Linked DNA regions of Homo sapiens. The protein of the gene in region 6 purifies or fractionates together with the protein of the main gene of each other region. This does not show direct contact. Each region holds a gene or a part of one and is shown on either strand. Other genes may lie near its edges.

The links.
Region 1: the proteins of ANKRD50 (region 6) and MAP9 purify together in Homo sapiens (affinity purification with mass spectrometry; one large-scale study listed by BioGRID and IntAct). This does not show direct contact.
Region 2: the proteins of ANKRD50 (region 6) and NKAP purify together in Homo sapiens (affinity purification with mass spectrometry; one large-scale study listed by BioGRID and IntAct). This does not show direct contact.
Region 3: the proteins of ANKRD50 (region 6) and HELLS purify together in Homo sapiens (affinity purification with mass spectrometry; one large-scale study listed by BioGRID and IntAct). This does not show direct contact.
Region 4: the proteins of ANKRD50 (region 6) and ARGLU1 purify together in Homo sapiens (affinity purification with mass spectrometry; one large-scale study listed by BioGRID and IntAct). This does not show direct contact.
Region 5: the proteins of ANKRD50 (region 6) and DDX46 purify together in Homo sapiens (affinity purification with mass spectrometry; one large-scale study listed by BioGRID and IntAct). This does not show direct contact.
Region 7: the proteins of ANKRD50 (region 6) and SLTM purify together in Homo sapiens (affinity purification with mass spectrometry; one large-scale study listed by BioGRID and IntAct). This does not show direct contact.

What each region holds. Positions count from the first base shown.
Region 1 is NC_000004.12:155,356,466-155,359,965, forward strand, and holds part of MAP9 (microtubule-associated protein 9), read right to left. Parts: intron 1,055-3,500; coding exon 984-1,054; intron 738-983; exon of another isoform or gene 624-737; intron 1-623. UniProt on the Homo sapiens protein: Involved in organization of the bipolar mitotic spindle. Required for bipolar spindle assembly, mitosis progression and cytokinesis. May act by stabilizing interphase microtubules.
Region 2 is NC_000023.11:119,920,172-119,923,461, forward strand, and holds the end of NKAP (NF-kappa-B-activating protein), read right to left. Parts: 3' UTR 501-3,290; downstream 1-500. Other genes in the region: AKAP14 (A-kinase anchor protein 14), read left to right, coding at 337-436. UniProt on the Homo sapiens protein: Acts as a transcriptional repressor. Plays a role as a transcriptional corepressor of the Notch-mediated signaling required for T-cell development. Also involved in the TNF and IL-1 induced NF-kappa-B activation.
Region 3 is NC_000010.11:94,569,788-94,573,287, reverse strand, and holds part of HELLS (lymphoid-specific helicase), read right to left. Parts: exon of another isoform or gene 1,901-3,500; coding exon 1,859-1,900; exon of another isoform or gene 1-1,858. UniProt on the Homo sapiens protein: Plays an essential role in normal development and survival. Involved in regulation of the expansion or survival of lymphoid cells. Required for de novo or maintenance DNA methylation. May control silencing of the imprinted CDKN1C gene through DNA methylation.
Region 4 is NC_000013.11:106,544,138-106,547,637, forward strand, and holds part of ARGLU1 (arginine and glutamate-rich protein 1), read right to left. Parts: intron 24-3,500; coding exon 1-23. UniProt on the Homo sapiens protein: Dual function regulator of gene expression; regulator of transcription and modulator of alternative splicing. General coactivator of nuclear receptor-induced gene expression, including genes activated by the glucocorticoid receptor NR3C1.
Region 5 is NC_000005.10:134,786,279-134,789,778, reverse strand, and holds part of DDX46 (probable ATP-dependent RNA helicase DDX46), read right to left. Parts: intron 1,267-3,500; coding exon 1,188-1,266; intron 564-1,187; coding exon of another isoform or gene 511-563; exon of another isoform or gene 165-510; intron 1-164. UniProt on the Homo sapiens protein: Component of the 17S U2 SnRNP complex of the spliceosome, a large ribonucleoprotein complex that removes introns from transcribed pre-mRNAs.
Region 6 is NC_000004.12:124,706,233-124,709,732, forward strand, and holds part of ANKRD50 (ankyrin repeat domain-containing protein 50), read right to left. Parts: intron 1-3,500.
Region 7 is NC_000015.10:58,923,680-58,927,179, reverse strand, and holds part of SLTM (SAFB-like transcription modulator), read left to right. Parts: intron 1-3,500. UniProt on the Homo sapiens protein: When overexpressed, acts as a general inhibitor of transcription that eventually leads to apoptosis.

The DNA.
Region 1 (3,500 bases), about 31 Mb from region 6:
TATTTGTAATTAGAAACTTAAGAAATATGGACCACTTCTCAAGTTACATGGAAAAAACAATACAGTAGGTTATAATCACTCTTTTAATATTTTCTTTCATCATTTTGTTACATGAAGCATTCCAAATATAAAATTAGAAAGAATAGTACTATCTATATCAGGGATTGGTGGGAAAATTTGGCCAGCCATTGGTTTTGATATACAAAGTTTATTGCACCATAGCTGTAATCATTCATGTTAAGTTTTGCCTGTGGCTGCTTTCCTGTTAAAATAGCAGAAATGAGTAGTTCCAATACAGACTGTATCGCCTACAAAGCCTAAAATATGCACTAACTGGCCATTTACAGAAAAAGCTTGCTAGCTCTGTTTTATTTGATTAATGATAATTTGACTAACGATAATTTTAAAGATTCAGAAGGTTTTTGATTAGCACTTATGAGTTAGGCATTCATTATCATTGGTGTGAATGAAGCTATACAGATAATCATTTTAATAAACCTACTTAGTTCATAGATTCTGAAGGCTTTCAGTACAATTTCTCATGTTAGACAATGATACTTGATAATGAATAAGTATCATTGCTAGACTTCAGCTTTATTACCATTTTATATTGCTTGTCTCAGGAAAAGTAGGAGAAAGAAGCTCTATTCCAGAAGCAGTCTGGAGCACAAAGAATCCCTAATCACTGACATTAAGAAAGAAGAAAAATATTCCTAGGACGATCCTGGAGAGCAAAGGTATTGCATAAACATTCCAGGCACTAAAACAATCAGTAATAGACTTACTTTTTATAAATTACTTTATTTCAAATAATATCATCAACCAAGGGGTTTTATCATGAAGTTAACTACTTTCATTTTATGAAATGGAAATAAAAAGAAAATACAGTAACACCAAATGAAATTTACTTTATGAAAGTTAAATTAAAACTAGCTTTGCTAGAATGCAAGCCCATAAATGACAAATATTGGTAACTTTATTACCTGGCAGATGCACTGGATGCTCTATTATTTGTTGACTTTTTATTCTTTATATTTCTATCTTCAATTGTTTTCTATTAAACAGAAAATGCCAAAGATGATTTATTCATGACAACTATCCTTTTTAGGCTTAGAAGCCAAACTGCCAGTAAATCACTATTCTTTAAGCATCTACTATGTGTCAAACACAGTAGAAATTGGGAGCAAATCAGTGAATAAAATGCCCTTAAGAATATTAAATTCTAGAGACGGATGACCAAAAATAAATATATAAGCAAACATGGCTCATGAAGGACATAAAATAGTGTGCAGTGACAGAGAATGACTAGAGTGGGGCTGAGGAGCTGCTTTAAAGAAGTTGGTCAGGGAAGGCTGTCCTGAGGGGCTGACATCAGAGCTAAGAGTGCAAAGGGCCCACCGAAAGGTCTATGAAAGAAAGAAACAGCAAGTGGGTAAAAGCCTGAGAAGGGACGGAACCTGTTATCTCTGAAAAACAGAAAGAGGTGAATGGAGCTGAAGCATAGTGAATGGCAGGGAAAGCGGAGGAAGACGTGGTCAGGGAAGAACCAGGTGAGATCACTAGGCAGCGATGAGGAGTCTGGATGGAATTCTTGTGATGAGAAACCAACAAAAAGACTTTAATGGAGAATGATTATATTTCTGTTTAGAAAAGGTCATTCAGTAGAGAGTAAGAATGAGGCCAAGGGTCCAGTCAAAAGAAACAAGTTACAACCTTACTTGTTACATATGAAATGCCTGTTCTAATTTAGAATTGCCTCTATTAGACATTCTACAATCCTGTCTATAAACTCCGGAATATCCTTTCTTCTTTTAAGGAACAACTTTTCTACTTTACACAGACTGATGGGTGCTAGTGGTAAAGTGAGAGCACAGACATAATAAACACATCCCTAACTTAGCAGTAGTGTTTTTTTCCTAAAGAAATTAGCTAAGGATGATATACCTGGAACATGGCTTAATGAACCTCCTTCATCAATTTTAAGAAAAGCTTGTATTTTATGTTATAAAAGTATTGCTCAAACACAAATTTTCAGCTAGCCCTGTTTTCTTCCGCTGATAATAAACACACAGAGCTGCTAGCTAATTGCAGCTACAAGAGATAATGACAAATTCAGGAGAAACAAAGACTGAAAATGCTACACCATAAATTTTTAAAGTATAGCACTCAGGCACAATTTAATGTAGGGACAAGTAATCCTACATATTACATATCTGTTTCTTAAGGTTATAATAATAATGTTCCCCTCAACAACAACAACAAAAAACAAATAACCCCACTAAAAAGAGGGCAAAAAACATGAATAGACTTTTTGAAAAGAAGACATACAAGTGGCCAAGAAACATGAAAAAAAATGTTCACCATCACTAATCATCAGAGAAACACAAATTAAAACCACAGTGAGATATATTATACTAGTCAGAATATTTAGCTATTATTAAAAAGTTAAAAAAGTAACAGATGTTGGTGAGAACACAGAGAAAAGGGAATGCTTGTATACTCTTGGTAAGAATGTAAATTAGTACAATCTTTATGGAAAATAGTTTGGGGATTTCTTAAGGAACTAAATATAGAACTACCACTCAATCCAGCAACCCCACTGTGAGTATCTGCCAAAAGGAAAATAAATCATTATATAAAAAAGATACCTGCACTCATGTTTATCACACCACTAGTCACAATAGCAAAGATATGGAATCAACCTAAGTGTACATCAACATATGATTGTATAAAGAAAATGTGTATACACACACACACACACACACACACACACACACACACAGGAATACTATTCAGCCACACAGAAAAGAAATAATATCTTTTACAACATGGATGGAACTGGAGGCTATTACCTTAAGTGAAATAAATCAGAAACAGAAAGTCAAATGGTACATGTTCTCACTTACAAGTCAGAGCTAAATAATGTGTACACATGTATATAGGGTATGGAATAATAGATAATGGAGACTAGGAAAGGTGAGAGGGAGGTGCGGGATGAGAAATTACTTAATGGGTACAATGTACATTTTAGTTTATACTAAAAGTCTGACTTTACCACTACACAATATATCCATGTAACAAAAAAGCACTTGTAACCATTAAATTTACATGAATTGAAAAAAGAAAAAACAAAGCAACTTCATCACCTCTGGAGGTTGCCAGGGCACCAGTTCATTATTTTGAAAATTAGGAAATAAAGGCAAAGGATCAAATACGAATAATAATACTAATGTTCCTGATGATAACCATCTATTTTAAAGAAGCACAGATGTTGATAAACTGTTGATAAACATTTCTTTAAGATTTTTGTTAAAATTGTTAACACGTTTTAAAACAATATCCAAAAACATAACTCTAATTTAAAATCTCAGAAATTATTCCAGACAGTTATATTTTTAAAATATGAAGACCTATGGAAATATATACACTATGAGTATGCATTTCTGAGACATTTAAAAGTATATTATGATCACACACCTCTGATAATTTTTAAACACTGG
Region 2 (3,290 bases), on a different chromosome or scaffold from region 6:
TTGCTGGAGTGGGGTGGAGGCAAAGTGGGTCATGTCTATCGTTTCTAAGGAAAACTTCAATATCACATAAAATTAACTCATGTATAATAATCCCTTTTATAGCAGCTCTCTTAAAGTATCTTTACATATAAGCTCATAAATCCTTTCATTGACTGGGCTTAAGAAACAGTAAAGGATAGACATAGAGAACCTTAGCTACCTCCCCTCCCCCGCCAATAAAAGAGGCTTCTTGCTTACTAGGAATATAAAAGAGTAAATAGGGAATCCCCTTTGTTTGATTTTAAAAGCTTTTGATTTAAAAATACTTTAAAAGTGTTTGTTTTTCTTCCTTTGTAGACCAGGAATGGTTCGCTTTCGAGAAAACTGGCAGAAGAATCTTACTGATGCCAAATATAGTTTCATGGAGTCATTCCCCTTCTTATTCAATCGTGTCTGATACTTACAGGATGTCTTAGGATTGTTTTTCTCATCAGGATACATTAAAAATACAATACAGCACGTCAAACCACAGAATATTTATTGAGTAATAAACTTGTGGCACACAATCCAGCTGTATTTTTTTGCATTCATTCATTTTCCATTCTGCAACCTCCATCACATTAGCAGAGTAACCAGTAAGTTGTTTTCTATTTTCTAAAGTATTTTTTTCTATCACTATATGTATCACTTCTGAGTCTTACAGGTATAGAGCTGAGTTTAGAGAGTTGCTAAAATTCACCTATTGGACCAAACTAAGGTTGGTACTTGGCTGTTTGTTCCCCATCTGAGCCTAAGTCTCCAGCTCAGACACATCTCTTTATGGGCACAACTGGGAACAACAAAATGGCAACAGTTCTACAGCTCATAATATAACCAGTCTGAAGGGTTCCCCTACTCACAGACCCCTTCATTTACTGGGAGTTAAGCCTCACTGCTAAATAATATATTTTGAAACTGGAAAACTGGGCATGCTGCCTTCCACAATACACCACTATACTCATGATTGCAGGAGGGTGGCTTGGGGACTAGGGGCAATGACACGGGAAGGATACAATCATTGCCCTTACTTATCTTTGATCTTCTTCCCATCCTCACACTGAATAATCACTTGTTCCTACCTTCCCTGTGAACCTCTCTTGCCTGGCTGCAAAATTTTAAGACACCAAAGACAAAATTACATTATGCTCTGAGTGATTACTTACAAGTACATCAGAATATTTACTTACATAGAAAAGCACTGGAAAGGAGGAACACAAAATATGAAAGACAATTGATATGGTACTGAAATTTTTCTTTTTTAACTGTTAGATATTTGTGCAATAAATAAAAAAGGAGGGAAAACCACATCAGAGCAATAGGCAAGGAGGTGGCAAACTAGATAAGTCTCCTTGGAGAACAAAAAATATATTTAAAATACAATAGCCCTACTACAACTGATTTATGGCTCAGGTGACTAAACACAATTTGAAGCAGTAACAACACTCATAAGCTGAAAATAAAATACTTTTAGCCCTTTTATTCTTCTTGCCTCTTTCCCAAAGAATATGCCAATGAAGCTGTTCTTGATGTCACAATATTCATATATCGCAGAATTTCTGCATTTAAACTACCTTGCCTACTGAAAATAAGATAATCATTTCATCTCTAGGAACCAGTAACCAAAAAAAAAATGTCCTTAGAGAATACATTTTTATTTGTTTGTTTATTTAGAGACGGAGTCTCATTCTGTCTCCCAGGCCGGAGTGCAGTGGCTTGATCTCGGCTCACTGCAACCTCCACCTCCCAGGTTCAAGCAATTCTCCTGCCTCAGCCTCCCGAGTAGCTGGGACTACAGGCACGTGCCACCATGCCCGGCTACATTTTTTGTATTTTTAGTAGAGATGGGGTTTCACCATGTTAGCCAGGATGGTCTTGATCTCCTGACCTCATGGTCCGCCCACCTCGGCCTCCCAAAGTGCTGGGATTATAGGTGTGAGCCACCACGCCCAGCTGAGAATAAAATTTTTAAGTGGGTATTACAAAATTCAGGTTTTATTATTCAGGGAAGTAGATGGATTGAGACTCAAAACTTTGGGAACTAGTTTCTTTTAACTTTTGAAAACTACAGATTTATTAGGCTAGGCAGCAACTACAATTAGGTATAAATAAACAGAAATCATTTCAAATTCAGGGGTCATTAATGCTGCTACATGCTGACTCTTATTTTCAGTAGTTGCGGGTTAAAAGTAGACATTTCCTGGAACATATATTTAATAGTATTTAAGACTGTTAATACTGTTTAATTATAAAACTTTGGGCCGGGTGTGGTGGCTCACGCCTATAATCCTAGCACTTTGGGAGGCCGAGGCGGGCGGATTGTTTGAGGTCTGGAGTTTGAGACCAGCCTGGGCAATAAGGTGAAACCTTGTCTCTACTAACTATACAAAAATTAGCTGGGCATGGTGGTGCACACTGGTAGTCCCAGCTGCTCGGGAGGCTGAGGTGGAGGATTGCTTGAGCCCAGGAGGTGGAGGTTGCAGTGAGCCGAGATTGCACCACTGAACTCTAGCCTGGGTGACAGAGGGAGACCCTGTCTCAAAAATAATAATAAAAAAACTTTTGCTCTATACTTTGAAATATGACTGCCTTATTTAAACACTTTTGAAAAACAACCACTTAAAAATATAAGGCAAGCGGGCATTTTACAATAGTATAATCAGAATGTCCTTATCACTCAGGTAATTTAAATTTATCATAGGCATGTAATAATAATGCAGATCAAATAACCTTAACAAAAACGGCCAGGCACGGTTGCTCACACCTGTAATCCCAGCATTTCAGGAGGCTGAGGCGGGCAGATCACTTGAGGTCAGGAGTTCGAGACCAGCCTGGCCAAGATGGCGAAACCCCATCTCTATTGAAAATACAAAAATTAGCCAGTTGTGGTGGTGAGTGCCTGTAATCCCAGCTACTTGGGAGGCTGAGGTGGGAGGATCACTTGAACCCAGGAGGCAGAGGTTACAGTGAGCCGAGATCACACCACTGGGCTCCAGCCTGAGTGACAGAGTGAGACTCTATCTCAAAAAACAAAAAACAGAAAACCAACCTTAATGAAAACAGCCAAAACTTCCTGGGTTCCCTCCCCCATTCACTCTTCTGACCTAATTAAAATTGAACGAAATAAACAAAGGAACAAGACCACGATATCATAGTCCCACAATTTTCCATTTCTCCCCAACTTAAAAACAAACAGAAAGGTTTAAGTGTTTAAAATGAAATCTACTTAGTATATGAAAGACAGTTAAAAATATTTAATATCATTTTAGTTTCTC
Region 3 (3,500 bases), on a different chromosome or scaffold from region 6:
TAACAGATACTTTACAAAAGAAAACATACAGGCCGGGCATGGTGGCTCACGCCTGTAATCCCAGCATTTTGGGAGGCCAAGGCAGGCAGATCATGAGGTCAAGTGATCAAAACCATCCTGGCCAAAATGGTGACACACTGTCTCTACTAAAAATACAAAAATTAGCTGAACATGGTGGCATGAGCCTGTTGTCCCAGCTACTTGGGAGGCTGAGGCAGGAGAATCGCTTGAACCTGGGAGGCAGAGTTTACAGTGAGCCGAGATCGTGCCATTGCACTCCAGCCTGGGCGACAGAGTGACACTCCATCTCAAAAAAGAAAAAAAAAGAAAGAAAACATAGTTATCAAAGAACATAAAAATATACTCTACTTCAGTAGTAATTAGGAAAATGCAAGTTAAAAACCACACAAGTTACCATTTCTCATCTAATAAAATGGCTGAAATTAAAAAGACTATCAAATGCTGACAATAATGTAAGCTGGAGTTTTCAAACATTGCTGGCGAGAGAATAAAATGATGTGTTTACTTTGGGGGGGAAAATCTGTACTTTCTTATGAACACACATTTGCCACGTAACACAACAATACCATTCCCAGGTACACAGGCAGAAAGTATGAAAACATGTCTACACATGGACTTGTGTGCAAATTATCATAGCAACCTTACTCATAAAAGTCACAAACTGCAAACAACCCAAATGCCCATCAATAAGGGGATGGATGAGAAAATTGTAACATTCATTCAACAGAATACTAGTCAATAAGAAGAAACCGGTTACTAATATGCTCAACAACATAAATGAGTATCACAGACATGTTGAGTGGAAAGGAAATAATAAGCCATCCTATAAAAGGTGTAAAAAGTGGCCTCCTCTGGGTTTGGGGGTGGAAAGACATAGAAGAGATCCCTTTACAATGGAAATGTTCTATACCTTGATTTGGATGGTGGTTACACAAGTGTATGCAAGTGTCGAAATTCATTAAAATACCATACTTAACAACTATTTCTTACTGACTGTAAGTTATAAAATGAAGCCAAAATCCCATAGTAAATTACAGAAGATTACATCTAGACTTTATCTTAAAAATCCAACTAAATGTTTATCTAACTAAATCTTTAAAAATCCAACTAAACTGCACCCATAAACCAGTCCTTAATAACTTAACAAAGAATAAAAACCAAGACACTTTTACAATATAAATTTTGGACAAAATTATATGACCAAATAGATTATCTCTCATTTTATAAACATAACATTAATTTCCCAAAGGCCTAAAAATCTTTAATATGTAAATTAACTACCTGAAGTTCATATCCATTCATGAATATTTTCATGTCATGATTATTTTGCTTCCCTAGGCAACCTTGTAATTTTAAGTACTTGAACAATAAAAAGTCAGATAACAAGGAACCTCTCTACATGAAATGGGCTAAGTGAAGAGGTGGCTCGGAAATCAAGCCTTCTCAAACAGAACTTTTAAGAAACTTAAAAAATCTTTAAGGTCTGAAGCAAGATTAAGGCATCCCTCACAGCTTCCATAAGATGATTCACGGTTTATATCCACATGGTTACGAGCACTTGTATCACTGCCAGATTCACAAGTTAAAAGCAACATTGCTAGACCCATAAATTAACATTTATACATCAAGAATCATGCAATAAAACAACTAACTAAAGTTGATACATAAAAAAGAAGAATGTTGGATATGGAAGAAGTGAATACATAGGTATTTTTTTTTAAAGCAAAGAAACAGGATAATAGTGAGAAGAACGTATACTGCTGATTAAAGAAAAAGGACTAGTAACTGAGGAGTAAATATGACTTCTAAACTTAATCTTACATTATAAATTTCTTACCTCATTCTCCTTTTTATTTTTTTTAGCCACAGACAAAATTTCCTAGTAGTTTGAGAAAACAAAAACAAATTAATAATGTATGAAGTTCATTTATTTATTTATTCAACAAGCATTTATTCTGTGCTCATTTTGCCAGGAAATGAGGATGAGATTCTCAAGATAAAACTAGTAGCCTTCAGGCAGAAATAAGCCTATAGACATTACTGGCTCATAATATTTCATAACATTCTAGGCTAATTTGGGAACACTTATACAATGGGATATTTCATCAAATACAGTGATTTTCCAGCTTTTCTTTCTTTTAATCTGAGTAGATTAAGTACAAATTCACACATGGCAACAAACCTCTAGTCCTGGGGTCAGCAAACTACAGCCTGTAGACCAACTCCAGCTAAGCGAATACACAGGTATTTTTTTAAAAGCAAAGAAATGGGATAAATTGGAACAAAGTCAGCCTCACTTGTTTACGGTTTGTCTATGGCTGCTTTCAAGCAACAACAGCAGAGTACAGGGTTGAGTAGTTGCCCACAAAACTACTCAAAAGCTAAAAATATTTACTATCTGGCTATTTACAGAAAAAGTTTGCCAAACCATGTTACAGCCCACTTTAGGCCTCTGTGGATAGACATCTGAGTTTGCATTCCTGGGTAAGAGGCAAAGACAGAAAAAATTAAAAATACAGAATAAAGTGCTCTGATTTTGAAGTACCTACTAGATGCTGCTGGTAGGGAGACAAACAATACCCGAGTATGTCACTGGATGACTTAGCAAATAATTATCTTACATAAAATTATCTAAAAAGTTGTCACCAGGCTTCATCATTCAAGATAGTGAGGGTAGATTTCAAGCAGAGAGAATATAGAAGGCATAGGGGATGAAGTAGATTCAAAACAGCAATATCAAATTTAAGATTCATAGAAGAGTAACAGGACATGTAAGTGGCTGACACACACACATATATATACATGGGAATATATGTATATCGTGTGTGTATGAAGTATTATGTATGTATAGATATTCATATTATAAGGCTGAGGCTAAAAGGATTTTATACCAGGAACTGATAAAAGCTGTCCTGTAAAATGACTAGATAAAATGAAACTTTTGAAAGAACAATTTGGAAATAAATCAAAATCTATAAATACCACCAATGAAGTATTCTTATTAAAAATCAAGCATGGGCAACATGGTGAGATCCCATCTCTACAAAAAATATAAATGTTGGCTGGGCTTGGTGGTACACGCCTGTAGTCCCAGCTACTCAGGAGGATGAGGTGGGAGGATTGCTTGAGCCCAGCAATCAGAGGTTCAATGAGCCGAGATGGCACCACTGCACTCCACCCTGGGCAACAGAGAAAGATCTTGTCTCCCAAAAAAAAATAAAAATAAAAAAAAAAATAAAAAAACACCTTAATCACAAACTTCCGTATTTAACTTATAGTTACTATAGTTAACAGGAAACACAAGAGGCAGAGAAATCATGGGGATACAATCAGTAAAGTCTAGAATGTGGGGAATTATACAGAATTACTCATTTTCTTCAACAAATAATGTTTCTTAAAAAAGATGAGAGACACTCTAGATCTAAAAGAGACCCAAGATACGCATTAATCAAACACAATTTATGTAACTTTTTCGGATC
Region 4 (3,500 bases), on a different chromosome or scaffold from region 6:
ACAATTCTCAACTGTTCTTCGGCCTGAAAGTTAAAAGTAAAAATTAATTATAGAAATGTATTAAAAATTATCATATGTACCCCTGCAACAGGTGTTATCTATTATGTATCTACAAAAAAATTTTTAATGCAAATGCAAAAAAGGGGGTAAAAACAAGGACTTCCTATGAATTACATGCCTTCAAAATATTTTAGTTATGAGGTGACAACTTACACACAATGGCATGTGTCATAAAATCTGACGAAGGTCACATAGTTTGGTAGAGAAAAAAGAATTAAGAAAATTAAAAGAGAACCCTTTATTAATTACATCTACATTTTCTGTCTTTCATTTTCAATGAAAATAAATGAACAAATTATGGAAAAGCATTTACACATTTTGGAAGTGGAAATTAATTTCCACAAATCACATGTTGAGATGACAGATTTTGTTCTATACCTATTTTTATCTCTAACTTCATTGTACCAGATTAATAGATTGTTAATTATAAACCGAGGTACAGATTTACTCAAAGAGCAGGTTATCTACCAATTGCCATATTTATAGTTGAAGGGCATACACACACACAAAAAAACAGAAACATAGGAAAAAATCTCCACTGGGGCTTTTTGTGTGGTCAAATCATGCTGAAAAAAAAGGGACTATATTATAGTATCAGTAGACAACCAAGAAACACGACAGACCCAATTACCTGAAGAAAAATATTACAAAACCTTCTGACCTGACTAACTATAAAGTGCTATCTAATTTCAAAAGGACACTGGTATAACTGATTCCACTCCTGCAGTGCCTTCAACTCCTTCCATGTCAAGCAACTTCTTTCCCGCATTCTTCCACAGATTTCCCCCTCTTTACCAAAGTCAGGCCCTTCTCATGCTTCCTAGAGATACCATACACACATCTTCAATTCTCAATTCTCAACCAAGCACAATTTTAATCCCTTCCCCAAGGGGACATTAGGCAATGCATGGAGATGATTCTGGCTGCCACAACTGGGAATGGCTCCTGGCATCTAGTGGGTGGAAGACTGGGACAATGCTACACATCCTATAATATGGAAGACAGCTCCCACAACAAAGAATGATCCAATCAGTGCCAAAATTGAGAAAGCCTGCTCTAACCCTTTTTAATATCAGTTATCATGATTTATCCTTTTTCCCCTCTATCTGACAGTGATCTTAAAACATTCGCTGCATCCTTTGAGCTGCCTACCTATTCCCATTCAAAGTCAAATTTTAGGTCATTGATTCCATCTCCATTATTCTACTAAAATTTTCTTCTGTATGGTCAAAATCTATCAAATTCAGTGATTTTTCTCTTTATTCAAATAAATTCTTCTGTTCACTTAAGTCTTTTAAAAACGTTCTCTCTTCTGATACATTCTCTAATGCCACACACTAATTACTTCTTTTGTCTCCATTGATATATATGTATTTTTTAAATAAAGTGTAAAGTGACTGGTTTACAGGCATTTATGGCAGAGGAAGATGGAAAAGGTAACAGGACTCCGGTATGCAATAAAAAATGTTGAGATTTTATCTTAAGTAGCAAAAAGGGAAGAACGCAAAGAAGTTTAGACAGCAATGTGACGTAGACTAAAAGATAGGTGTTGGAACAAATCAACCGCAGTCAAGTAAGGTTGGAGATAACAAAGATCAGAATTACAAGCAGTGAGAGAATCTGGCAGGTGAGCATGGTGGAAAATCCAACAGAGAGCTAAAATGTATCTTTAAGATACAGCTCTCTAAAACCTTTTTCCTATGCTACATTTAGACCTGGCTACTGGACACATCCACCTGGGAGACCTAGGACTTGCTTCAAAATTCAACATGTTTCAAGATTTAAATTCTTCCACTTTATCCTTAAAATAAATCTGCCCTTTACACTTTCCCTTCCGCCACTCAAATTCTATAGCTTTATTTCATCTCTTCCTTCTTCAGTCAAGTTTGTTACTTCTTGTTTTATATTCTCTGCCTAGAGTTTATTTTCATTTCTTTTGCCAGCTTCATCAGTTTAGGGCCACATATCTTTTGTACATCTAAAATGGTGCCCGTTTCCAGTGTGTCCTTCAATCCATCCTACACGATACTGCCAGACTCACCTTTCTTGACCACTGCTCACTCTTTCTTGTTCTCAAATTGCCAATGATATCCACTGTCCATGGCATACAGCTTAACTTCCTAAAGTATAATGTTTCTCTAAGACAAGATTTTCTATAACCTGGCTCCAGCTTTGTTTCTACTCCTCTTCTAAATTCTCCTTTCTATCTTGTTCCCCCGTCTTTTGCTCATGCCATTCTTTCCTTCTATGGAAATCCTACCTGTACATCAGAATCTATTTCAAATAGCCACTCTCTTCCTTAGGCTTTCACTGATATTACAACAAAAAGAACTGCCTGCTATCGGTCATCATTAATGAATTCATATGCCAATCACTTTATCCAGTTTTAATAAATCATCACAAATTTGGGGTAAGAGCTTAGTGTGTGCAACTGAATCAAGATGTAGTAAGGGTTCTTTGGATGTGTGTGTGTGCCTAAGAAACATTTTATCAATATAAATACTCAGATTCACTTTCTTCTAAGGTTCTAACTCAACCCTAGGAAAGCATCCTAGAGCCCTGGAGAGTGAGGGTACATAAAGAACATCACAACCTTAATCCATAAGAGAAATCTAATGAACATTACAAATATACCATTTTTTACCCTAGAAGACAGAAATTCAAAGTGTGACAGCACACTGCTGTGGTTTCAGTATGTCCCCCAAAGGTCGCTGTTAGAATTAACTGGCATTGTTAACAGTATTAAGATGTGGGGCATTTAAGCAGTGATTAGGCCATGAGGGGTTCATCCTCATGAATGGATTAATTCTGTTATTACCCGAGTGGGATGTGGGTTGGTTACCATGGGAATGGGCTCCTGATAAAAAGACGAGTCTGGCCACCACTTTTCTCTCTCTCTAGGGCCCTCTCTGTCTAGCTTGCTCGCCATGTGATGCCTTCCACCATGGGGAAACCTCATGGGATGCCTGTGCCATGTTCTTAGGCTTCCCGGCTTCCAGAACCCTGAGCCAAATATTTTTATAAATTACCCTGTTAGAGCAGCAAAAAATGGACTAACACACATATGCTATCATATAAAGAGCACTCTCACACTATCAAAATTACATCTTCGTAATACTTTATGCCAGCAAGTACATTTTCTGGAATTTACATTATGTACTTGTACAGCAATGTGCAAATTTTGCACCCATGCGAAACTGATATATTTACAGGGTTACATATTACAACACAGTTTATAGAAAGAAAAGAATGTGAAAAAAACCCAAATATCCACCAATATGGGGTACACTAAATAAATTACTGAAGATATATAAAGGAGAATATTGTATAGCCATTAAAAACAAGTAAGAGGAAAAAAGGAGGCCCCTATGTTCCGCAATGGAAAAATCTCCAAGTTACACTGTTAAATGAAAAAAAGAAAGTTCCTTGTGTACATGCTA
Region 5 (3,500 bases), on a different chromosome or scaffold from region 6:
ACATAGGAAATTCCTTCTAAAATATTAACAGAAGCATTGCTATCAACTGTTGAATCAATCACCTGGCAAAAACACGTATAAAATAGTTATTTAAAAATAGACCACAATGACAGATAAGAGAAAAAGGTAAAATTAATCAAGATGAATTTCAGGAGGAGACTTAATCAATGCAGCATTGAGAAAAAAAAAAAGGGATTATTTAATCAGCATTCAAACCAAAACTTTCCATATGCTAGACAAGCACAATGACTTCTCAATTTCGATGTCACTTTGCCAACTTCATGTACAATTAGAATTAGAAATTCAAGCAGAATACTACTAGAAACATGCACTAACTCAGTTTTTAATACTCTATTATGTACACACTAAATATTGCAATGGAAACCTCTGAGAGCATTTTCTTCAAAAAATAAAAAGTGCCAAAATAAGTGCTATCTAATATTTAAGTATTCCACACTAGCATTTGTAGCCCCAATTAGTTTTGCAAGGTCGGGAACAGCATTAAATTACCTACCTTTGATGGTTTAAGTCTCGGAAGCCCAGTTCTATAAATCTTGAAGGGCCTTTCTCCACAGAAGTTAAATAATGTCAACAGTTTAGTAAGAGTTTTGATAGGGAATAATTTAACAAAGCATAACATTTGAGCTACAAACATGCAATATTTACAAAAGATAAAATTTCTTGAAGCTGCAATATCTTAATTTATGTAGTATCTAAGAAAATACTAGCTCATGTGGAGAAAAAGTCTAAATTTTGTAATAAAGAAAAAGCTACTACCCCACTCTTTTACTAAGCAAAGCCAGGCCAAAACTGGATTAAGAATCCAAGTTATGATCAGATGGAGTTACTTCTGAAAAAAAATTTTAAATTGCAAAAATATCATTAATGCTTGTAATAATCAACTTGTTACAATTATTATTTTTTTTTTTTGAGACGGAGTCTTACTCTGTCACCCAGGCTGGAGTACAGTGGTGCGATCTTGGCTCACTGCAAGCTCCGCCTCCCGGGTTCAAGCTATTCTCCTGCCTCAGCCTCCCAAGTAGCTGGGACTACAGGCTACAAATTTTAAGATACTGCAGCTTTAAGAAGAAATATAGAAACCCTTTGTTGGTTTCTTGCATCTGTTTTAACAAAAAAAAGTAAAGAATTCAAAAATAAAAGACACCAAAAAAATACCCCTGACTTACCACTGTTAGCGGCTAACATGTCAATCATTCGACCAGGTGTGCAAACAATAATTTCAGCACCTCTTTTCAGCTCAGCAATCTAATAAAAAAGATGAAACTTTATAGTCTATTACTAATGCTTACTTAAACACTAAAAAATACTGCATTTAGTTCTTGCCTAGTCTAATTAGAAGACTTCCAAGCTTCCTGCTTAATTATTTTGAATCTCGGGGCACTACTAAAGAAATAGCAACAACGTGACCACATAGTGCCATAAATTTGAAACAAATAAGAACTAGAGAATTCTGCAAATTTGATTTGCCACTATCCCTCAAAACCAAGAAATGAACTTAAGAAAGCAGTTTAAAAAAAAAAAGTGATAATCTCTTGAGCCCAGGAGTTCAAGGTTGGAGTGAGCTATGATCACATCCTTGCACTCCAGCCTGAGCAAGAGCAAGACCCTGCCTCAGAAAAAGAAATTTCTAAGTGACCACATAGACTAGTGTTTTTCAAATTGAGGGTTGCCACATTAGTGAATCATGAAATCACTTTAACAGTCATAATCAGCTTTTTTTTTTTTTTTTTTTGAGACAGGGTCTCACTCTGTTGCCCAGGCTCTGTTGCCCAGTGCAGCAGTGTCATCATAGGTCATTGCAGCCTAGATCCTGGGCTCAAGTGACCCTCCCATCTCAGCCCCTCCCCCCACCACCCCACACACCCTCCCAGTATCTAGGACTACAGGCACTCGCTAATTTATTTACTGTTTTAAGAGATGGGGTCTCACTACATTGCCCAGGCTGGTCACAAACTCCTGGACTCAAGTGATTCTTCCATTTCAGCCTCCCAAAATGCTGTGATGATTACAGGTATGAGCCATAGTGTTCAACCACAACCAGCATTTTTTAAATGAAATGGAATGGAAAATACCAGAAGTCCCTTAACATCATAAAACTTTTGTTTGGCATTTATATAAATACAACGTGCAGGCATGTACCATGTTATTTTGTAAGTGTATTTCTACAAACTACAGTCATGAAAAATCATAAAGATAAACTTAGAAAATGAAGTAATTTGAAGTAATTAAAATAGCACTGGAGTTAACAAAAGCAAATATTCTTGAAGTGTGTTCTTGTAACAATAGTCCTAAGAAACAGTTTTGTAGTTAAGTTCAGAAAACGTCACTTAATTTATCCCATTTATCTAGCAACACAATATACATTAGCTTATTAAGAACAAAGAAGTCTTACAGGAAAGAAAGTGGTTTTAACTTTTTATACTCCAACATTTCCAAAACTTATCCAATCACAGAACCTACTTTTTTGCCTTCTTCTAGTTAAGCAAAATATCTGAAAACTATTTCATTCTTTAGAAGACAGCTGAAGGGCTGGTCACAGTGGCTCACGTCTATACCTTTCGGAGGTGTTACAAAGGGAAGCCAAGGCAAGCAGATTGCTTGAGCCCAGGAATTCAAGACCAGCCTGGGCAACATGGCAAAACCTCGTCTCTACAAAAAAATACAAAAACTAGCCGGGTGTGGTAGCATGCGTCTGTGGTCCCAGATACTCAGGAGGCTCAAGAGGGAGGACGGCTTAAGCCCAGGAGGTCAAGGATGCAGTGAGCCAAGGTCACACCACTGCACTCCAGCCCGGGCAACAGAGTAAGATGCTGTCTCCAATAAAACAAAACCAAAAAACAACAACAACAACAACAACAAAACACCTCTGATATTAATGCATCCCAGTAATCACCATCACTTCCGCCACCCCCCAAGATGGAGTCTTGCTCTGTCTCCCAGGCTGGAGTGCAGTGGCGTGATCTCAGCTTACTGCAACCTCCGCCTCCCAGGTTCAAGTGATTCTCCTGCCTCAGCCTACCGAGTAGCTGATATTACAGGCAGGCGCCACCAAGCCAGGCTAATTTCTGTGTTTTCAGTAGAGACGGGGAGTCTCGCCATGTTGGCTAGGCTGGTCTTGAGCTCCTGACCTCATGATCCACCCGCTTCGGCCTCTCAAAGCGCTGGGATTACAGGCATGAGCCACCGTGCCTGGCCACCATCACTTTTTAAAGATGTCAGCATAGATTAGAGAAACAAATGCTCAGAGATCAGAGACCTAGGTTCCAGGACAAACTCTAGAACGTATTAACCTAATTGGTCAACTTAATAAATCTTTCTGAATATTTCCTCATATGTAAAATGAAAAAAAAAATCTGCTTTCTCAGGCAGGGGAAGAGGGAGGAGGGATAATCTATGTAAAAAGATTCAAAAATTCTAATCTAGCATTAACATAGTATGTTCTTTTTTGCCACAACTATATTGGGTCATAATTAACAAAA
Region 6 (3,500 bases):
ACGCAAATGAACTATGCTTCAAACGGAGAACACTCTCATTATTTGTCATACAAATAAATGAATGTCAGAAGAAATTTCGTGACAACTATATCTAAAAAACTATAGAATATACTATACCATGTCAGAAGGGAAGAAAGTGGCAATGTTTCACTAGATTAAGATGAAGTTCCTTTCACTCTTCCTTAATTATTATGAACTAGTAATTAACAAATTACGATTTAGCCATATAATTTCATGTATCACGTATTCTATCTACTATCATTAGGCACAAAAAAAATTAAAGAAAGCTAAGAAGCAAACTGAAGAAAAGATAAGTGGATTTAAAAAGCATCAAGTAAATCACTTCTCTGCAATTTCCCCAGCTTTGTGAATCTGTGAATAACTGAGATTTTTTCATTATCAACTTTCTATAACTATTAAAATTGTTTCACACATGAATACGGATGCTCCTTAACCTATGATAGGATTACACCCTGATAAATCCATTATATGTTGAAAATATCTTAAGTCAAAAATGCATCTGATAACTCTCAACCTACCAAACATCATCGCTTAGCCTACCCTACCTTAAGCATGCTCAGAATACTTACATTAGTCTACACTTGAGCAAAAGTATCTAACACAAAGTTTATTTTATAATGAAGTGTTGAATATATCATGTAATTTATTGAATACTATATTGAAAGTAAAAAACAGAACAGTTGTATGGGTACTCAAAGTAAGGTTTCTACTAAATACATATTGCTTTCTCACCATCCTAAAGTCAAAGAATCTTAAGTTGAACTATTATAAATTGGGAAAAGTCTGTATATGAAACCATCAATATTAGCAGAAATTTAAAGGTTAAAAAGTAATAATGCAAAAACTGGTTTTGGATTTAGTTTTTGTCAAAAGCGAAAAATAAATATTTTCCTGCTGTTTGCTTACATTTATATTTAATCTCCTGTCATGTTATAATTAGCTACTTCCATTTCCATTTCCCTCAAAATATTGTAACTCTTTGGAAACAATGGTTTTCAGCCCCATTTTCCACCTGTTGAATTATATCTATCCATGCCTAAATAAAATACGTTCCTATTAAAATTCTCTAAAGGACTTATTTAAGAAATCTGTCAATCAATAATAGAACCTACAATAAAATCTTGAATTATTTGTCCAAAAGTAGAAGCCTAGATAATGTAATATCACATACCAAACAAAAATACATCTTTTTAACTTTGAATTGTGCTCTCAGGTTTGCAAGTGAATATAGCTGTATTATAGCTTCACAGTTGTAATGGAAATGTGTCTCTATGAATGATCAAAAAGAGTGTTTCAATACCATAGTTCCCTAATTAATATCATGATCAATTACTTTAACGATGAAGAAAGAAAGTGACTCAGGTTTTTGAAAAGTCCAGTAAGAAATCAGTGAAGAGCACCAAAATGGTCCAAGTAGAAAGACTAAAGCCTTCTCTTTTATTAAAGTGTAAACTGGGAATGCAAAGTGATTGGCTCCTTCTGTCAATCAGAAAAGCAGGGCTGGTATGGTTTTTACACACAGCTCTAATTGCTTCTTCTTCCTCTTCAATTAGCTAATAACTGAGAATCACACAGGAAAAAGAAAAAATAAAAGAAACAATTGAATAAAAGAATTATTTTTCAGGAAAATCTATGATACCATAGAGAAAGCTATGCTTAGGATCAGAATATATCAAAAATACAGTAATCAGACATGATTTTTAAACATTCAACATTCAGGTATCAGAAATTTACATATGAATTTCAATAAATTATAAATTACATACCTTGGTTACATCAGATTAAGTTCACCTCAGACTAAGCTCTTTGAAAGTTATTGGTAGGTGTCAATAAACCTAAATAGCTTATGAAATTACTTATCACAAAGAAATGAAAATTCTGCTCTGCCACTAGTATCTTCAGAAAAAGCAGTAAGAAGAAAAGAGTTGCTTATGTACAGTTTTAATTCTATTAAAAGGTATAGTTTTATATTAAAGACTACATTATTTATTCTGTACAGTGATTCCATATTGAACACTCTCCATCAAACCTTGCATCTCACATGCCACAGGCATCAACTAACAGATTTCCTCATTAATTTAAGAATGATACAACAGTTTTAACGCTGACTTTGATGGCTAACAACAAAAGATAATAGATTTGCCTTTAGTTTTATTGGACTAAATTTACATATTAAAGAGTCTACAAGAATATCACACCTCTCAAAGATACATCCCTTTGGCTGACTTTAATAAATTCCTCCCATATTTGAATTCTGTACCATCCCTAACTCTCATTCTAGAATACCACTCCCTCTATCACTATATGGGTAATCTGAAAACCACACTCAAACCACACTGTGACACAACTCCTGTTCTCCAGCTTTGCCATACATAACCTTCTAAACCCCTCCTCTTCCCATCAAGTCCCCCAGAGAATTTCTAAGATTACTAACACATACACACACACACACACACACACACACACATACACACACACACATTTAAAATCTCAGCCCTGCCATTTACTAGTCTGTAACCTTGAACAATTTATTTAGCCTCTCTGTACCTTAGTTTCCTCATCTATAAAATGGGAGTAGTAACTACCTCACAGGATTATTATGAGGATTAAATGATCTAATATTTGTAAAGCACTTAGAATAATGACTGACACTTACTGTTTACTGTAATTACTATTAAATATTTTCAATATTACTTTCAAAATGTATAGATTTCACCCCATTAGATTTGAGGATATCATAAAAACAAACATCACTCTTTTTAGAGTGATTCAAATCTCTCCTAGAAACACACTCAAGCAGAAGAGAGCCACACACACACACACACACAAACCTCCAGTGCACAGTATACCAGAATCTTTGGAGAACAAACTTTTGCCCGCTAAGAATGTTATTGTAGAGAAAAAGCTTATGGCAAAATGGGTAATTCAAGCAGAAGTGAAGCACAAACTAACAATTTGCCTGCTACTTTTACAATGAGCAGAGGCATGATATGCAAAAAAAAATGTTTTCAAGGAATTATATTTTCTTGAACAGATTTGAATCTGAAACCACTCTGGAAAGCAACTTGCTCACTTCCTGGACCAATCCATTTACCATGGAAAAAAAGCTTTGCTGAAGTTAGGAAAAAACACTTTCTTTGTACCACTCACTAAAAGTAAAAGTAGTAAGATGATCCCAAATGTTCGCTATTTTATAAATTCACATACTTCTAAATACCAGTTTTTCAATTAGTTAGTTAATAGGAGAATAAATCCCAAAACTCATCAGCAAATTTTCTTCAGATTCTCAGTGGCCAATAATCTCCTTTAAAGAAAACCTTTCTTACTTAAAAAAATACTACTACTATAAGGAAAAAAATAAAAAGATACTAGATGCTATACTGATAATTACTCTAAGTTCAGTTCACCCTCTGAAAATGTAACCTATTTCCAGACAGCTAAATGTGCTTCTCTACCATAAGAACAAATTTCCCTTACCA
Region 7 (3,500 bases), on a different chromosome or scaffold from region 6:
GGTATATCAGGGATTAATAGTTTTTATCTTTTTTTTAAAGGTGCCTCTCTCAAGAGCATAATGGCTTCTCCTTACACATTGATATGTAAAATATACTTACTTTTAGAACACATGAATCATTGCATCATCCTTTTATTCTTTACCACATTGATGCTGTGTTGAAAAGCCTCTGAACCTTGCTGGAATACTGTCCAACCTCAGAGGTTGTATATGTCATTTTCATTTCACAAAATTAGCCCTTTTATCGCAGCCATTAAAACATACATTTGGCCAGGCGCGGTGGCTCACACCTATAATCTCAGCACTTTGGGAGGCCGAGGTGGGTGGATCACAAGGTCAGGAGTTCGAGACTAGCCTGGCCAACATGGTGAAACCCCCTCTCTACTAAAAATACAAAAATTAGCCAGGTGTGGTAGCATGTTCTGTAATCCCAGCTACTCTGGAGGCTCAGGCAGGAGAATCACTTGAACTTGGGAGGAGGAGGTTGCAGTGAGCCGAAATGGTGCTGCTGCACTCCAGCCTGGGTGACAGAACAAGACCCTGACTCAAAGAAAAAAAAAAAAAAAGGTAATCCAGAAAAGTACAAAAAAGTGAAGATTACCCGTAATCCCACCACCCTGAATTTATCATATGTAGCATTTTACATATGATATATATACATGTTTATAATTAAGTACATGTTTACTCTGTAAAGCTTTCTAAAAGTTAATCTAATATAGTAATCAACCACATAAAGCACATTTCATATTACAACACATGTTGATCTAAGTTGTGTAGGTGTATGTGCAAGTACTTACAGGAGGTTTATGTTTAAAGGTTTTTTCCCCCCTTTTCAACAACTAAAATAGATTCACACCATACATGGTGTTTTGTTGAAGGTAGATAGAACTTAAATATTTCTGTAGTCTGGAGAATCAAAAAACAATAACCTTCCGTCTATATTCTTCTCAACAGCTTCTGTAAATAGATTCACTTGTCTTAGTGGCTCATGATCTGCACTCTGCGTTAGTCATTTGAATTTTAAAAAATACAGATAGCAGGCTTTCACTCCCCATAGAGTTGGTTTGGGTTGTTATGTTGGGGGCCCAGGCATCAGTATGTATTTTCTAAAAGCTCCCCAGGTGATTCTTACATACACCTGAAGTTAAGAACTAACTAATCTAAACTAAAGCTTGAAATTTAGCATCATTTTTATTCATCTCTCTGCTGGTCAGTTTCTAGATTATTTTATATACTTTTCAGTTTTCGGAAAACTTCTACATTGCTTTATTTGATTCTCACAACGGTGCTGAGAGTTAAGCAGGACTATTTTCTTTTTACTGGTAGAATAGAAAGGTAATTCATTAAGAACCCAGTTAAATTACCTTTGACAGTCTTGTGTTTGTAGGCACACCTGCCTGAAGGAGTGTGCCGGAATTGTTTATTCTGTTCATCTTTAGATAATTAATGTAAGATATTTGAAAAATATACCTTTGGCATATTCTAGGTTTATTATAATGAATGTGAATTATCTTTGTAGTAATTTTTCAAAGTGACCTATTGGGCCAGGTGGGATGGCTCACTCTTGTAAACCCAGCACTTTGGGAGGTGGAGGCGGGTGGATCACTTGAGGTCAGGAGTTCGAGACCAGCATGGCCAACATGGTGAAACCCCATCTCTACTAAAAATACAAAAACTAGCTGGGCATGGTGTTGGGCACGTGTAACCTTAGCTACTCAGGAGGCTGAGGCAGGAGAGTCACTTGAACCCAGGATGCAGAGGTTGCACTGAGCTGAGATTGTGCCACTGCACTCCAGCCTGGGCAATAGAGTAAGACCCTGCCACAAAAACAGAAACAAAAAACTCAGAGTGACCTATTGTATGACTGTTGTGTTTAAGACAATGTGCAAGGCCTTTCAGAAAAATGATTTTGTTAGTAAAATGTCAGTTTAATAGAAGAGAAGCTAAAACACTTGCAAACAATACAAGGCATGGCCTGTGATTAAGATACTCCATGCAATTGGGAAGAGGTTGTTGCTGGAAACATTTCAGTTTGGCATATCTTCTTAATCTTCCCCTCCCTTGCAACAGAAATTTTATAACTAAGCTTTTTTTTTTTTTTTTTTTAACATTTTATCGTAGCTCTTGTGAATGTTTAAGGGGAAAAGTTACTCAGCCATAAAGTATTTTGGCAAAATGATTTTAAAATTTCCTTAGGCTGGGAGCAGTGGCTCACGCCTGTAATCCCAGCACTTTGGGAGGCCAAGGCAGGAAGATTGCTTGGACCCAGGTGGTTGAGGCTGCAGTGAACCATGACTGCCCCTGCACTCCACCCTGGGCGATAGAGCAAGACCTTGTCTCAAAGAAAAGAAACTAATTATTAAGTGGGATTTGTTTTTGTTTGGGAGGTATTTCTGAACTTAAAAAGGAAAATTGCAAACCATTATAGGGACTAGTTTGCCTTTGGAGGAAAAGGAAAATTGCAAACCCTTATAAAGACCAATTTGCCTTTGGAGGAGAAAGCCAATTTATCATCCAAAATCCTCAGAATTCTCAAATACAAAAAGTTCTGAAAACTGAAAGTTTCTTCTTAAGTTTGGTGGCAAAAGTTATTTATAGTCTTGACTTATCCCATTTGATGTGAATCTGCTTACATTTCATTGCACAAAATGTTTCTGTGATTGTGAAATACTGTTCCAGAAGCCACTGGGAGGTTTAACTTAATAAATAGTATATGCAACGTTTTACTCTTCTAAAATCTGAAAATTGTGAATTCTGAAACATATCTCAGAGGGTTTCATTAAGAATTTTTGGGCTTATACAAATTTATGCTACATAAATGTTTATAGTCTTGTCTTTCTCTGGTATATACGTTTTTACTTTGCCATTTTACTTTAGGCCCTCAAATCATGCAAGTTATATTTTAGATTTTGTTTTTGTCATTTCAAAATAGCTATGTTACTACTATGATAGTTTAGGATGTGATAGGTTAATCTTGCTTTCATTTTTTATTTTGTTATTCAGATTATGTTTACTGCCCAATTTATTTTGTAGTTTTTTCCTCAAAGCGTAAAAGTTTGGCTTCAGGCCAGGCGTGGTGGCTCACGCCTCTAATCCCAGCACCTTGGGAGGCCGAGGCCGGTGGATCACTTGAGGCCAGGAGTTCGAGACCAGCCTGGCCAACATGATGAAACCCTGTCTCTATTAAAAATACAAAAATTAGCTGGGTGTGGTGGCATGAGGCTATAATCCCAGCTACTCAGGAGGCTGAGTCAGGAGAATTGCTTGAACTCGGAAGGCAGAGGTTGCAGTGAGCCAAGATAGCGCCTCTGCACTGCACTCCAGCCTGGGCAAGAAGAGCGAGACAGTGTCTCCAAAAAAAAAAAAAAAAAAAAAAAAAAGGTTTGGCTTCAATCTGCCTTACACTTTCAGTTAGTTCCTTTATCCTGGTCATGCCACTTTCACAGTTTTGCGGCAGTTGCTAGATTCCCTGTAGGACAAAAGAGGTGAAACTATTTAGT